Linked DNA regions of Homo sapiens: all the other regions are reported to be linked to region 3. Evidence: microRNA targets listed by miRTarBase, many of them from high-throughput screens and not tested one by one. Region 3 holds a microRNA gene; each other region holds the end of a gene's coding sequence. Distances are from middle to middle.
What was found. The annotated mature microRNA hsa-miR-766-3p reads ACUCCAGCCCCACAGCCUCAGC and lies in region 3 at 1,534-1,555, shown strand. An mRNA with a match to its seed (bases 2 to 7 or 8) in the 3' UTR can be bound and repressed. Matches are read on the target gene's strand: a 7mer-m8 pairs with bases 2 to 8, a 7mer-A1 pairs with bases 2 to 7 and ends in A, and an 8mer does both.

Region 1 (3,000 bases), not on the chromosome of region 3:
GTTTTTGTCACATACTGTGTTAGTTGATTTTTTGAAAATTGTGAGCTCCAGCACAGAATTTGCTTAGAGATCATGATGTCTTCAGGTCAGAACTCACAGTTGCCTGGATTATCATTTTGGTTTCTATATCCAATGTATTGCAGATTATGCTTATTTTTGGTACCATATGTATTAATGTTCTTTATTTTTTCCCCATTGTCATTTGTTCCAGGTCTACAGCATCAAGACAAGAGTAAGGAATCACCGTGGTACTGAAACACACAATCTTAGTGAGTTAAGTTGCAGCATAAATCCAAGGGCCCACTGGGAAAAGATACTGTCGGGTTTTTCCATTCAGCAATAGGACACGAAAGGCATAGAAGGAGAAGACAAAGTGTCACGCAGTTGACTGGTTTTCGGCCTTTCTTGAGAAAGCAAAGTGGGTCCCAGACATTGAAGAAAAGCATTTTTATTTGTTTATTTCCTCATCTGAGCCTTTGCCAACTGTGCAACTCTCTCCTTTTGTTATCTTGCTTTTATCAATATATAGCTAAGTTTTTGTTTCATTTTGATTTTTTTTTTTAGCCAACCACCTTGTCAGGAAAGGATGAACCACACATTAAAATGTTCATTCTTTCAGGAATACAAGTTTGTAGCTCTATGTGCATCTATTTTTGTAGAAATACAAAAAGTTTGGTTTAGCATTGATGGGCTATTTTTGAGGGATGTATTTTTTTTAAAATTGTAAAAATTGTTGAGTTCTGTTTAAAGAACTTGCTCTCAGAGAAGCACTGGCAAAAATGTTTAAAATGCTTATCTCTAAGATGTCTATTATATGCTCTGTCTGTGCTTTCTAGGTTACCTCAAATGTTTTGTTTTTTTCCTTCTTACAAAAGTAGCTATACCGTAGTCAAACCAATGCAGTATTGTTTTTACATTGAATCTCAGTAAAGATTTAATTCCATGCTAGCTCAATTAGTTTTGAATTATATGTATAGCTTGAAAAGTTTTTTTTTAATGACTGTGCTAAAGAAATGATATTTTATTGCTTTGATTTCTCCCAAAGAATAACTTGGAGGTTGACTAATAAGAAAGTTGGCATAAACTTTCAATCAAATGAAGAGTTTGCCTAGAGGAGACTAATTCTCTTTCTAGCCCATCCAAATTTGATAAATGGAACCAGAGGTTATATACAACTACAAGGAAAAAAATGCATTTAACCATGCCACCTATGAGTGCCAGTGACTTATTTTACTTGTTTTTAATTATTCATTCATGGCAATTTAAAAAGTCATATTTTAAGTGGGATTTGTTTTTCCTGAAGGGCATTTGAAGGAACAATATCTGGGAAGGTACTAGAGAAATTACAAAGCCCGAGCTCTTTCTTATAATGCCACCTATCCCTGTAAGCTAAACAAACAAACAAACAAACAAACAAACAGTTCTATATATAATAGTTTCAACACAGAACTTAACAAGTCTCTTTTTTTGTTTGTTTAAATCTGGCTTTACTTGATTTAATTCCTTTTTAGAAAGAAATTTAGGGCAAAATAAAGTGTATATTAGGATTTAAATTTATGCCACAATTTAAAAATAAAACCAGAGGTTATATACAATTTAAATTGGGCTAAAAATTAAAAATTTGAGGATTTAACTTGATATAGCTCTCAGGATCTAAATAAAGTTTAAATTATCATTAAGACACTGCTAGGAGAAGATTAAGATTATGAAAGTAACAGTTATTGATACTGCTGGACTTCAAAGGCAAAGTTCATTTCTTCCATTAACTGCTTCCAGAGATGTCATGTAAAAAAGTTAGTGTATTAGAGAAGTTTTTTAGCTTTATAAAGAGGTTTTTTCAAATTTCTCCCATTTTTCTCTCCACCCACATAAAATAGTATGTTCAGTGAAATGCCACTTTCTATCTTTAATTGTTCGTATCATATATGCGAACTTTTTAGACATGAACATGACATGTTCAGCTAGGCAGAGTTCTCATAGATAATTTTCAAATATTTTCCTTGGCTGTAATTTATGTATTCATTTATATCCTATCCGTCTTTTGAGCTTCAGATCTATATACTCTTTTGTACTCTCATCACTCCGCACTTTGCTGTTTCTTACCTAGACTCTCTTTTACACAATATGCACATTTTTACCATTGTGGGGTCCAAATTTAAGATACCTTCCACTCACTAATAATATGAACTTATATTTCCTGGGAGTAGCCAGGTTAAATTTTCTATACTTTGGTCCATAATTTGATTTGATATGATTGTTTCATTTATAATTTGCCCAAATACATGGAGCACAAAATTTAGTGAATTTATAAATCTGGATTTGCCTTGTGTCCTTCTGAGTTTTCAAAGGCAAGTATTCAACAGTCCCTGTGTGATGACTGACAGGGTTATTTGCCTCATCCACATCCACCTTCGGAATACATTAACTTCCTTTGTAATTTATTTGAAAGTAGTGTTAAACTCATTCAGATCATTCAGTTGGATTTTCCCAATGAAGAGGAAAAGGAAAGTAGTTATTCCTAGCTCCATTTCTTATTTTCCACCAAATTTAATTGAAGGGCATTAATTAGATGTCTTCACCCTGAATTTAGACTTTGCTCTGTGTTCTCCCGGTAACTGTCAGACAAAAAGTTTATTGGCTCTGAGGAACTGAGAAATGTTGGGAACCTGGTTTCTGCTGTACACAGGAAAGATTTGTAAGTGAGCTCTCTCTTTGAAAACAGGACCCAGGCTGGGCACAGCAGCTCATGCCTGTAATCCTAGTATTATAGGAGGCAGAGGCTCGGGAGGATTGCTTGAGCCCAGGAGTTCAAGATCAGCCTAGGCAACATAGGGAGACCCTATCCCTACAAAAAATTTCTGAAAAATTACCTGGGCATTGTGGGGCACACCTGTTGTCCCAGCTACTCTGGAGGCTGAGTCCGGAGGAACGTTTGAGCCTGGGAGTTTGAGTTTGCAGCTTGCAGTGAGCTGTGATTGCACCACTGTACTCCAGCTTGGG
Region 2 (3,000 bases), not on the chromosome of region 3:
ATCCTGCTTCTGCCAAAGGTTAAAGACTAACCTCTTGACTTTGGGCAAATCACTTAACCCACCTAAATCCCATACTCTTCCTCCATAACCCTCCTCTTCCCGAACAACAGAAATCACTAACACCTGAAGAATACTTGCTACATTCTAGCACCCTTGCTGACTTCCCATTCAACATCTCCTTTTTCTTTTTTGAGACGGAGTTTCACTCTTGTAGCCCAGGATGGAGTGCAATGGCACGATCTTGGCTCATCACAACCTCTGCCTCCCAGGTTCAAGCGATTCTCCTGCCTCAGCCCCCCAAAGTGCTGGGATTACAGGCGTGAGCCACTGCACCTGGCCTCAACATCTCCTTTAATCTGCAGAAGTAATCCTGGGGAATAGGTCCTAGTCTTATCCCTATTTTACAGATTTATTATCCATCTGTGAAAATGGGAAAAACAATATTGATTCTGTTATAAGGCTTCTAGAAGACTGAATGGGATCATTTACAAAATGTGTGTGGCACAGATGTTTGTTTCAAAGTTGAAAGCCTGAAGCCTGTGGGCAGACCTAAGGTCAAGCACCAAGCCAGACCAGAACGTACCCCTGGACAATCACAGCAGGAGTCTCTTCCAAGACATAATACTCCACTCCCCAGTACCAGAGCAGTGCTTGGCAGAGGGCATTCCACAGGTTTCTAGGGGAACTTGAGAAGATGGCTTGTGATTTTCTCCCTGAAAAAGTTAGCAGCTCAGAGGGTTTCTTAGAGGATTATTCATCACCCAGTAAGATGTCTACAAACAGAGAAGATTGAAAAATTGTTATTTGGCAAAAAAACTTCTGAATTTAATAAAGAAATGGCAACAACTGGTACGTACAGTAATTCAAAATCTTTTCACTAAGCACCAAATAGGATAGTTCTCAATCTTCTCAAGAACCTCTTTGAAAGAACGCCTAAAACCTAATCAGTTTATTTAGGTTTTTAGTCAAGAAATACAAAGCTGCCAATCAGAGTTTCTAATTACCATGAGTGACCAGGTTAGCAACCTTGAGGTCATACCACATGAGCTTTTAAAAGCTTTGTTTAACCTATACGTTGTAACTGAGGGGATTTGTTGATGTCAGGCTGGTAATCAGAGATCCATGTGCCAGATACCATATACACACACCAAAAAGATACAGATTATATGGTCCTTATATATTTAAGGAGAATAATGTCTAATTCTCATGGGTGTAGAATTAGTGAGGGGCAGAGAGACAGATACAAAGCACTAACCCACCAGGGAGAACCTAGCGAGGGCAACAGAAGAGATCAAAGTCCTGTGCCCTGGGGATGCAACTGAATGGGTGCTGGGAGGCTTCAGGGATCAGGCACATGAGTGGATGTCAGTCCATGTGGGAAGGGGCCTTCAAGGCTGAAGACAACAAAATGAGTCAAGGCACAAAGCCACAGGAGTACTGCCAATCAGAAGACAGTGAAGCATTTGTTCTGGGTAAAGGGATGTGATCTAATAAGATATAAAACTCAGAAAACCTTACCCAATGAGAGCCAGAAATCTCCATTTCTTAACAGCAACTCAACAGGGAATCTGAGGCTGCCCACAAAACTAACGAGAGCAAAATACCCTCCCAAAGGCAGGGCACCACATGCTCTCTGTGGAGGCTCAGTAGCCAATGATCACCCTGCAGCCCCTCCCCACCCCCACCACGACACTCTAGTCCCTTGGAGTCAAATCCACTGGCAACAACCTTCCTTAACGGAAAATGTTTCCCCTCCCAAAATGTAGAACAAAAATGATACACGCAAACAAAACTCAAAACAGAAAGAGACAATCAGAGCAAGATTTAGCCCCTCACAGCTCACCTATGACCCCACTGTCATGCTACTGAAAACAGTGACTGACCCATTAAACAGATTCATTACTGCAGAATGTAATGAATGTTAGCGTATCACTGCTCCCACTATATCCTTCTATGTCAAAAAAAAAAAGTAAACACCACATAAAATATAAACATACCCCAAACAGAAGTCAGCATCAACCTAAGGATCCTACTGTAAGATTACTATACTAACCCAGGACAGTTCCATCGTCTTCTGACCTATTTACAAAAAAATCCTCATTCTGAGAGCTCTGGAAACATTACAAATATTGTATTAGATTCCTCTTCTTGAGGTAGTTCAAAGTCTTAAAACAGAGCAAATTTACATACTTTTCTACACACCACCGCGGGGTAATTATCATAAGGCCTACGACTAAAACTCCCATCTCCTGATTCTCAGGCTACTATACTCTTTTCCTTCGGATCAAACTACAGGAAACACACATAAAAAGATGAAAAGTCATGCAAAAATTTAAAACAAGCAAAGCCACCATAAAAAAGAATCTGTGTCATCATATTCACAGTCTAAACTTTGCTAAAGACAAAAAAAAAATACTTACTTGGTTTATCCAAGCTACAGACATGTTATAAAGTACTCAAGAAATTAACAGCTTATAAAAATAGTGGAAAATTTTTCAATGGGAGCATAAAACTAAAATGAACTCATTATCTGGCAAAGAGTTCTTCCAAAATGTCAAGTCCACAGGAAGGAATGTGTGGCCAACCTCACGCATCAGCCCACTCATAGGCCAACTGCCTCTGCCCTTTGCTCACGTTGGCTTCAGAGGTGCAGGGATGTTGGCAGATGCCTGCTCCAGGTAGGCCAAGGAGCCCTGAGGGATGTCGGCGGGCTTTTTGTGCTGCACGTTGATGTCCTCCAGCACCTGCTGCCAATGCCTCAGCTTTGTCAAGTGCTTCTGGACTAGTGCATCTTTCCGCTGTAATTCATTCCTTAGTTCTGACACATCCTGCAGATGAAAGTCATGGACTAAGTCAGAGCAAATGCAGGAAAAACACATACGGTTCTGGTTAGTTAAGAGGCTAACAATTCAAAACAAAGAGAATCCATTAAACCATATTAAGCCCATTACTCTGCTTGGCTCCACTATTTGATTAACCCAGATGACAGATTCTAACATA
Region 3 (4,624 bases):
TCATCAAGCAGCTTGCAGGCTTGTGGTTTGCTTTGCTAAGAATAAATAGGGACTGAGAGTACTCAGCCATCTCAAGGTGTCACACAGAACCACATCTTGGTACCTCATGGATTAGGAGTGATAATCATCCTGGGCTCTGTTCTCAGCTCAGCTCTGGCCTCCTGCTAAGCCTAGGGTAGGCTCAACCTCAAGGCTGGAAACCCCCAAGCTAGGCAGCAGCAGTTGTCAAGCATGCTGTTATGGCTGTGAAGGGATTCTGGGTCCTTTATTACTCATAATTGTGTTTCACTTTGAGAAACAAAATTCGAGGCTGAACAACATAGTGAGACCTCATCTCTACTGAAATTTAAAAAAAATTAACTAGTGGCCGGGCGCGGTGGCTAACGCCTGTAATTCCAACACTTTCGGGGGCCAAGGCAGGTGGATCACCTCAGATCAAGAGTTCGAGACCAGCCTGACCAACATGGAGAAACCCCGTCTCTAGTAAAAAGACAAAATTAGCCAGGCATGGTGGCGCATGCCTGTAATCCCAGCTACTCAGGAGGCTGAGGCAGGAGAATCGCTTGAACCCAGGAGGCAGAGGTTGCAGTGAGCTGAGATCTCGCCTTTGCACTCCAGCCTGGGCAACCAGAGCAAAACTCCATCTCAAAAAAGAAAAAATTAACTGGTGCTGTGGCGCACACCTGTAGTCTCAGCTACTTGGTCGGTGGGTGGCCTAAAGTGGGAAGATTACTTGAGCCTGGGAAGTTGAGGCTGCGGTGAACCCTGATCGAGCCACTGCACTACTGCAGGCTGGGTGACAGAGCAACACCCTGTCTCACAAAAAAAAAAAAAGAGAGAGAGAAAGGAAAGGAAAGAAAAAGAAAGTAAATAAAGAGAGAAAGAGAGAAAGAAATAAAAAGGAAGGAAGGAAGGGAGGAGGGAGGGAGGGAATTCCAGTGGAAGGAAGGAAGGAAGGAATGGAGGAAGGGAGGGGAGGGGAGGAGAGGAGAGGAGCAGGGAATTCCAGTGGATTCAGGATTATCCCTATCATAAATCACTCACCACTTACTCCCTTGCATCCTACTGTGCTTTGTTTTTTTTTTGAGACAGGCTCTCACTCTGTCGCCCAGGCTGGAGTACAGTGATGCAATCAATTTCAGCTCACTGTAGCCTCCACCTCCTGGGTTCAACTAATCCTCCTGCCTCAGCCTCCCGAGTAGCTGGGACCACAGGCATGCACCACCATGCCCGGCTAATCCACTATGGGTTTTTTTTGAGTGGGAAAGAGAGGAGTGGCCTCACAGCTAGTGTGCCTGAATTGGCATGCCTGTGAGAGGAGCTTGCATGTGAGTGTTTTGTGTTACATGCGCTGTGATGGGAAAGAGGGTGCTATCAAATATACACAGAGGATTGCTTAGCCTGCCTGCCACCGAACAACTATGTCAAAAGTCCCCAGAGTCTTCACACAAGCCGTGGTGTATGAAGCTGCATCCTCAGGACCTGGGCTTGGGTGGTAGGAGGAATTGGTGCTGGTCTTTCATTTTGGATTTGACTCCAGCCCCACAGCCTCAGCCACCCCAGCCAATTGTCATAGGAGCTGGATTGGAAGAAGCGGAAGAAATCTGTTGCCTGAGTGGAGAAGACTGTACAATGTCCTGTCTCTCACCATGGGGGATTTTTGTGGCAGGAAATGAGAGTAATGAGGTCCCTGCCACCACCTTGAATTATGGGTGGCTCCAGAAAACCTTATTGTAGATTGAGGGGGAAGAGAAGGGAGAGCGAGGTCTTGTTGCATGCTATTTTCAACCCATGCTCTGATATCTCTCAAGGTTGTAGACTTTAATACTAAGAATTGCTATGTTATTTTAAATTTAATGATGTTCTTTGAATGGCTGAAAGCATGGCCAGGACCAGCAAAAAGGCCCAGTTACTTAATTGACTGAGCTCCATTAATTGTCCATTTGTGAGGTCTGGGGTTTGGTTCCCACAAAGGCAATTGACATTTGGGCCCAGTGAGAACACATGGCTGAACAGTAGGGTCATAGGAAGACCCACAGGCACAAGTCCATCCCTTCCTCTGAGACAGCAATGGTATTTCCATTGTTGCCATGTACTTTTACAGGAATCACCAGTGGTTGACTTGAGAGCAAATCAGCCAATGGTCTTGTTCAGTCACCAGCAGGGGCCTGAAATGGGGACTAACATAACTGGGAAACACTGTCCACCCTGGGAGGAAACCAAGCCCAATCAGAATATTATCATTAGATGAGGAATAAAGAGTTCTGACAGTGTGTATTTCACTGGGCTAAGCAGTCACCTAGCCTCCCAAGTATAATGGATGTGGTGAAATAAGAATAAAGTAACTCACGCCAATTGGATTATTAAGTACTTTACAATGTACAAGAAGAATTTAAGTTAGACACAAGTCAGTAAAGGTGGTGCTATGGTTTGATTGTGTCCCCTCCAAAATTCAGGTGTGGCCAGTATGATAGTATTAAGAGGTCGGGGCTGGGTGCAGTGGCTCACACGTGTAATCCCAGCACTTTGGGAGGCCAAGGTGGGCGAATCACAAGGTCAAGAGATCGAGACCATCCTGGCCAACATGGTGAAACCCCGTCTCTACTAAAAATACAAAAAATTACCAGGCGCAGTGGCTCATACCTGTAATCCCAGCTACTTGGGAGGCCGAGGCGGGTGGATCACCTGAGGTCGGGAGTTCGGGACCAGCCTAACCAACATGGAGAAACCCCGTCTCTACTAAAAATGCAAAATTAGCCGGGCATGGTGGCACATGCCTATAATCCCAGCTACTCAGGAGGCTGAGGCAGGAGGATCGCTTGAACCCAGGAGACGGAGGTTGTGGTGAGCTGAGATCACGCCATTGCACTCCAGCCTGGGCACCAAGAGCAAAACTCCATCTCAAAAAAAAAATAGCTGGGCATGGTGCCACACACCTGTAGTCTCAGCTACTCGGGAGGCTGAGGCAGGAGGATCACTTGAACCCGGGACGCGGAGGTTGCAGTGAGCTGAGATCACGTCACTGCACTCCAGCCTGGCGACAGAGTGAGACTCCGTCTCAAAAAAAAAAAAAAAAAAAAAGGTAGGGCCTTTAGGAATTGATTGGGCCTGGCCAGGCGCGGTGGCTCACACCTGTAATCCCAGCACTTTGAGAGACCAAGGCGGGTGGATCACCCAAGGTCAGGAGTTCAAGACCAGCCTGGCCAACATGGCGACATCCTGTCTCTACTAAAAATACAAACATTAGCTGGGCGTGGTGGCAGGCACCTGTAATCCCAGCTACTCAGGAGGCTGAGGCAAGATAATCGCTTGAACCCGGGAGGCGGAGGTTGCAGTGAGCCGAGATCGTGCCATTGCACTCCAGCCTGGGCAACAAGAGCGAAACTCTCATCTTAAAAAAAAAAAAAAAATGTGATTGGGCCATGAGGGCTTCTCCCTTGTTAATGGGATGAAGGCCCTTTTTTTTTGAGATGGAGTCTCGCTCTGTCGGCCAGGCTGCAGTGCAGTGGTGCGATCTTGGCTCGGCTAACCACAACCTCCGCCTCCCAGGTTCAAGCAATTCTCTGCCTCAGCCTCCCGAGTAGCTGGGATTACAGGCGCCCGCCACCACGCCCGGCTAATTTTTGTATTTTTAGTAGAGATGAGGTTTCACCATCTTGGCCAGGCTGGTCTTGAACTCCTGACCTCGTGATCCACCTGCCTTGGCCTCCCAAAGTGCTGGGATTACAGGCGTGAGCCACCACACCTGGCCGAAGACCCTTTTTAAAGAGACATCATGCAGTGTTGGGCTAGCTTGTCCTTCTGCTGTGTGAGGATGCGGCAAGAAGGTCCTCACCAGACCAGAATGCTGGTGCCTTGATCTTGGACCTCCCAGCCTCCAGAACTATGAGGAATAAATTTTTTTTTTTTGAATAAATTTCTATTGTTGATAAATTACTCAGTCTCAGGTAGTTTACTGTAGCAAGACAAAATGCACTAAGACAGATGGTGAATCTAGGAATGGACTCCCAAGGAAGGCTTGCGACTATCTCTTGTTGGAGTTTTCTGACACTGGGAAATCTGATATCCGAGGGCGCCTCATTGGAAGTCTGAGTGAGAGAGTCACACAGACTCTCCTGAGAGGCCTGTTTGTGTTTCAGCAGCAACACTGCCCTGCATCTATCAGAGTCTCTTCCCTGGGTCCACACATAGAAAATGTCACCACTGTCTGTCAGTTTCCTGCAGAGACCTGGGAAAAATAGCAGAAAGCCTGGCCTCAGATTTGGATCCCATTGGTAGGACCTAGAAGTATGGTCCGTGGTGGTGCGGGGGGAGGGTGGGTATCTGCTCTCTGCTCTGCTCGACTCTATTCTGGTTGTCAAAGCCATCTGTCTCTCAAAAGCAGTGGAACAGAGGGCCAGAGCCTGGTCCCCATGATTTCCTGCTTGTCATGGTTTGCTTCCTTCTAGCAGATGCCATGTAGCCAGGAGGCAGAGTGCGGACCACCCTAGGTGGCTGGGAGAGGTTGGCAGCCAAAGCTCGGTGGCCTCGCTGCTGCTTCAGAGGATCTGGGCATGGGGGTTAGGGACCTAGGCAACTCGTTTAACCTCCATGTATCCCAGTTCCCTCAGCTCACGAATGGATC
Region 4 (3,000 bases), 72 Mb from region 3:
CAGGCGCAGTAGCTCACGCCTGTAATCCCAGCACTTTGGGAGGCTGAGGTGGGCAGATCACCTGAGGTCAGGAGTTTGAGACCAGCCTGGCCAACATGGTGAAACCCCGTCTCTACTAAAAGTACAAAAATTAGCTGGGTGTGGTCATGCGTGTCTGTAATCCCAGCTACTCGGGAGGCTGAGGCATGAGAATTGCTCCATCCCGGGAGGCGGAGGTTGCAGTGAGCCGAGATCACGCCATTGCACTCCAGCCTGGGCAACAAGAGTGAAACTCCATCTCAAAAAATAAAAATAAAAAAGAAAAGAAAAGAGAGAGAGAGAGAAAGAAAAGAAAAGAACAAAAGAAAGAAAGACAAACCACATTCATGGAAGCCAAGGCTCAAAGCCATTTCAGACCTTACAGATTGGCAATAATTTAAAGGACTGATAATAAGTGCTGCTGAATGGCAAAATGAAAACTTTCTCAAACTGCTCATGGGAGTATAAATTAATACAATTTGGAAGGGAAATGTCAATACTTAATAAAGTTAAAAAACCTTCTGTATCAATCAGAGCCCAACTAGGAGACAAAAACCACACTAGTTATTTTAACAGAGAGAACTTATAAATAATTTTAACTAGTTATGAGGTTGTAAACCAAATAACTGAAGAGACAGAGAACATTCAAGTTATCAGGGAGGTAGCAACTGCAGAAAACAGCTGGGCTGGAATAACAAAGGGAAGAAGTTGACAATTTTTTGGGAGACAGGGTCTTGCTCTGTTGCCCAGGCTGGAGTGCAGTGGCACAATCATGGCTTACTGCAGCTTCAACCTCCAGTCTCAGACTCCCAAGTACCTGGGACCACAGGTGTGGTCCCATGCCTAGCTGATTTTTGAATTTTTTTTGTAGAGGTAGAGTTTCACCATATTTCCCAGGCTGGTCTTGACTCCTGGGCTCCAGCAATCCACCCACCTTGGCCTCCCAAAGTGTTGGGATTACAGGCATGATCCACTGCACCCAACCATAAATTGAAATTACTAAAACTTAGAAGGGGGAGGAGGGGTCCCATGTGACTAGAATTCACATCTCTAAGGAGGTGACACCAGCCAGCTGATGCTTGTGTCTCAGAGGGGATGGGCTACCATCTGTGAGTGCTGGAAAGCTGCAAACTAGATTAAACTGCTGCTGTGACAAGGAACTGCTGGTGTCTGAGTGAAGAAGCAATGCTGAGCGGACACTCCAATGACCAGGAAGCTAATAGGAATAGAAAAAAAAGGAGCAAGTCCCTTCTTCCCTCTCCAGCCCCAAAGTTTATATCTAGTATCTCTTATTGGCAAGGCCCAACAGGGAGCAGTTGACAAAGCCAAAATGTGGTTTGTAAAGTCACAAAGCACAGTCAAGAAGGGTGGGTTTGGAGCTCGGACACAATAGCTTAATAACCAGCACATTGCCTAAATCCTATGACCCATCAGTTCCACTTCTAGATTTAGACACTAAACTCGAAAAAGATACAAATGTCTTTTACTAGGGGAATGGAGAGATAAATGACTAGCCAGACCTATACTTATCAACAAGGACAGATCTTGGAAAGGTAACATTACATGAAAAAAGCAAGCTGCAGAACTTTAAATACAGTGTGAGCCCATTTATGTAAAATTATATAAAGACAATATAGTAGTATGTATTGCACACTTCATGCTATAACAAAAAAATCTCACAGGAGATTAAAATTCTAAATGTTGAAAGGAAAACCTTTAGAGGAAAGTATAGGTGAATATTATCACCTTGAAACTGATAATATTAAAATATAAAACTTTAGCCGGGCACGGTGGCTCACACCTGTAATCCCAACACTTTTGGAGGCCGAGGCAGGTGGATCACCTGAGGTCAGGAGTTAGAGACCAGCCTGGCCAACATGGTGAAACCCCGTCTTTACTAAAAATACAAAAATTAGCCAGGCATGGTGGTGCACACCTGTAATCCCAGCTACTTGGGAGACTGAGGCAGGAGAATCGCTTGAACCCGGGAGGCGAAGGTTGAAATGAGCTGAGGTCATGCCATTGCACTCCAGCCTGGGTGACAGAGTGAGACTCCATCTCAAAAAAATAAAAAATAAATAAATAAAATATAAAACTTCAGCAGAAGAAAACAGATGGCAAAATTTAAAAAACCAACGACAGTCTGGGAGAAGATATTTGCAACACATATGACTGAAAAAAAAAGGATTTTTATATTCTCATATGTTAAAAAACAACATTTAAACCAAAAAGCAAGAGATGAACAGCCCATTTGAAAACAATGAGCAGAGGACATGAACAGTCAATGCACAGAAGAAAAAACCCAAATAGCCAATCAACAGATAAGATGTTCACACACCACTAATTAGGGAAATCTGAATAAAAACAATGAGCTATCCCCTAAGGGGATCAGGACATACTTTGATACAAATGTAGGTGCCAAATTTTCACAGGCACACTGTGTGCCCTGGTGATCATATGCCCCCAAGGAGCTTGATCCAATGGTGAGGGAAGTCTTCAGTGAGAGGCTTTCTTCATTGTACAACGCCAGGACCAGCCTATGTGAGTTCTCTGATGTTCTGTGAGGTGTGCTTTCCGGCAGAAAGCTTTCCCACATTCTTGACACTCAAAGGGTCTCTCTCCTGTGTGAATTCGCTGATGTTCAATGAGGCGTACTTTCACATAGAAGGCATTTCCACATTCACTACATTCATAAGGTTTCTCTCCTGTGTGAGTTCTCCGGTGTTGACAAAGGGATTTCTTCATACTGAAGATTTTCCCACATTCACTACATTCGTAGGGTTTCTCTCCTGAATGCATCCTCTGATGTTCAATTAGGCGTGCTTTCACATAGAAAGCATTACCACACTCATTACATTCGTAAGGTTTCTCTCCTGTGTGAATTCTCTGATGGATCCCAAGAGATGAGTGCACCCTGAAAGATTTCCCACATTCATTACACTGATAGGGCTTTTCACCTGTGTGAGTTCTTTGATGATTATT

Region 1: the mRNA of VGLL3 is a reported target of hsa-miR-766-3p. The part of its 3' UTR that is shown has no 7-base or 8-base seed match.
Region 2: miRTarBase lists MED28 as a target of hsa-miR-766-3p. The part of its 3' UTR that is shown has no 7-base or 8-base seed match.
Region 4: miRTarBase lists ZNF157 as a target of hsa-miR-766-3p. Seed matches in the 3' UTR shown: 7mer-m8 at 2,046-2,052.

Annotation. Positions count from the first base shown.
Region 1 is chr3:86,944,279-86,947,278 of GRCh38, reverse strand. VGLL3 (vestigial like family member 3) reads left to right here. Exons shown (of 4, transcript NM_016206.4): 4 at 212-3,000. The coding sequence ends at 255. Among named protein-coding and RNA genes, the nearest start is that of VGLL3, 45 kb to the left of the region's middle.
Region 2 is chr4:17,623,429-17,626,428 of GRCh38, reverse strand. MED28 (mediator complex subunit 28) reads right to left here. Exons shown (of 4, transcript NM_025205.5): 4 at 1-2,828. The coding sequence ends at 2,631. Among named protein-coding and RNA genes, the nearest start is that of MED28, 10 kb to the right of the region's middle.
Region 3 is chrX:119,643,694-119,648,317 of GRCh38, reverse strand. It overlaps MIR766 (microRNA 766), which reads left to right and starts at 1,470; the gene lies at 1,470-1,580. All of the region lies in intron 5 of SEPTIN6 (septin 6), which reads left to right. RefSeq lists an enhancer at 237-416.
Region 4 is chrX:47,413,109-47,416,108 of GRCh38, reverse strand. It overlaps ZNF157 (zinc finger protein 157), which reads right to left. Exons shown (of 4, transcript NM_003446.4): 4 at 1,611-3,000. The coding sequence ends at 2,515. Among named protein-coding and RNA genes, the nearest start is that of SNORA11C, 26 kb to the right of the region's middle.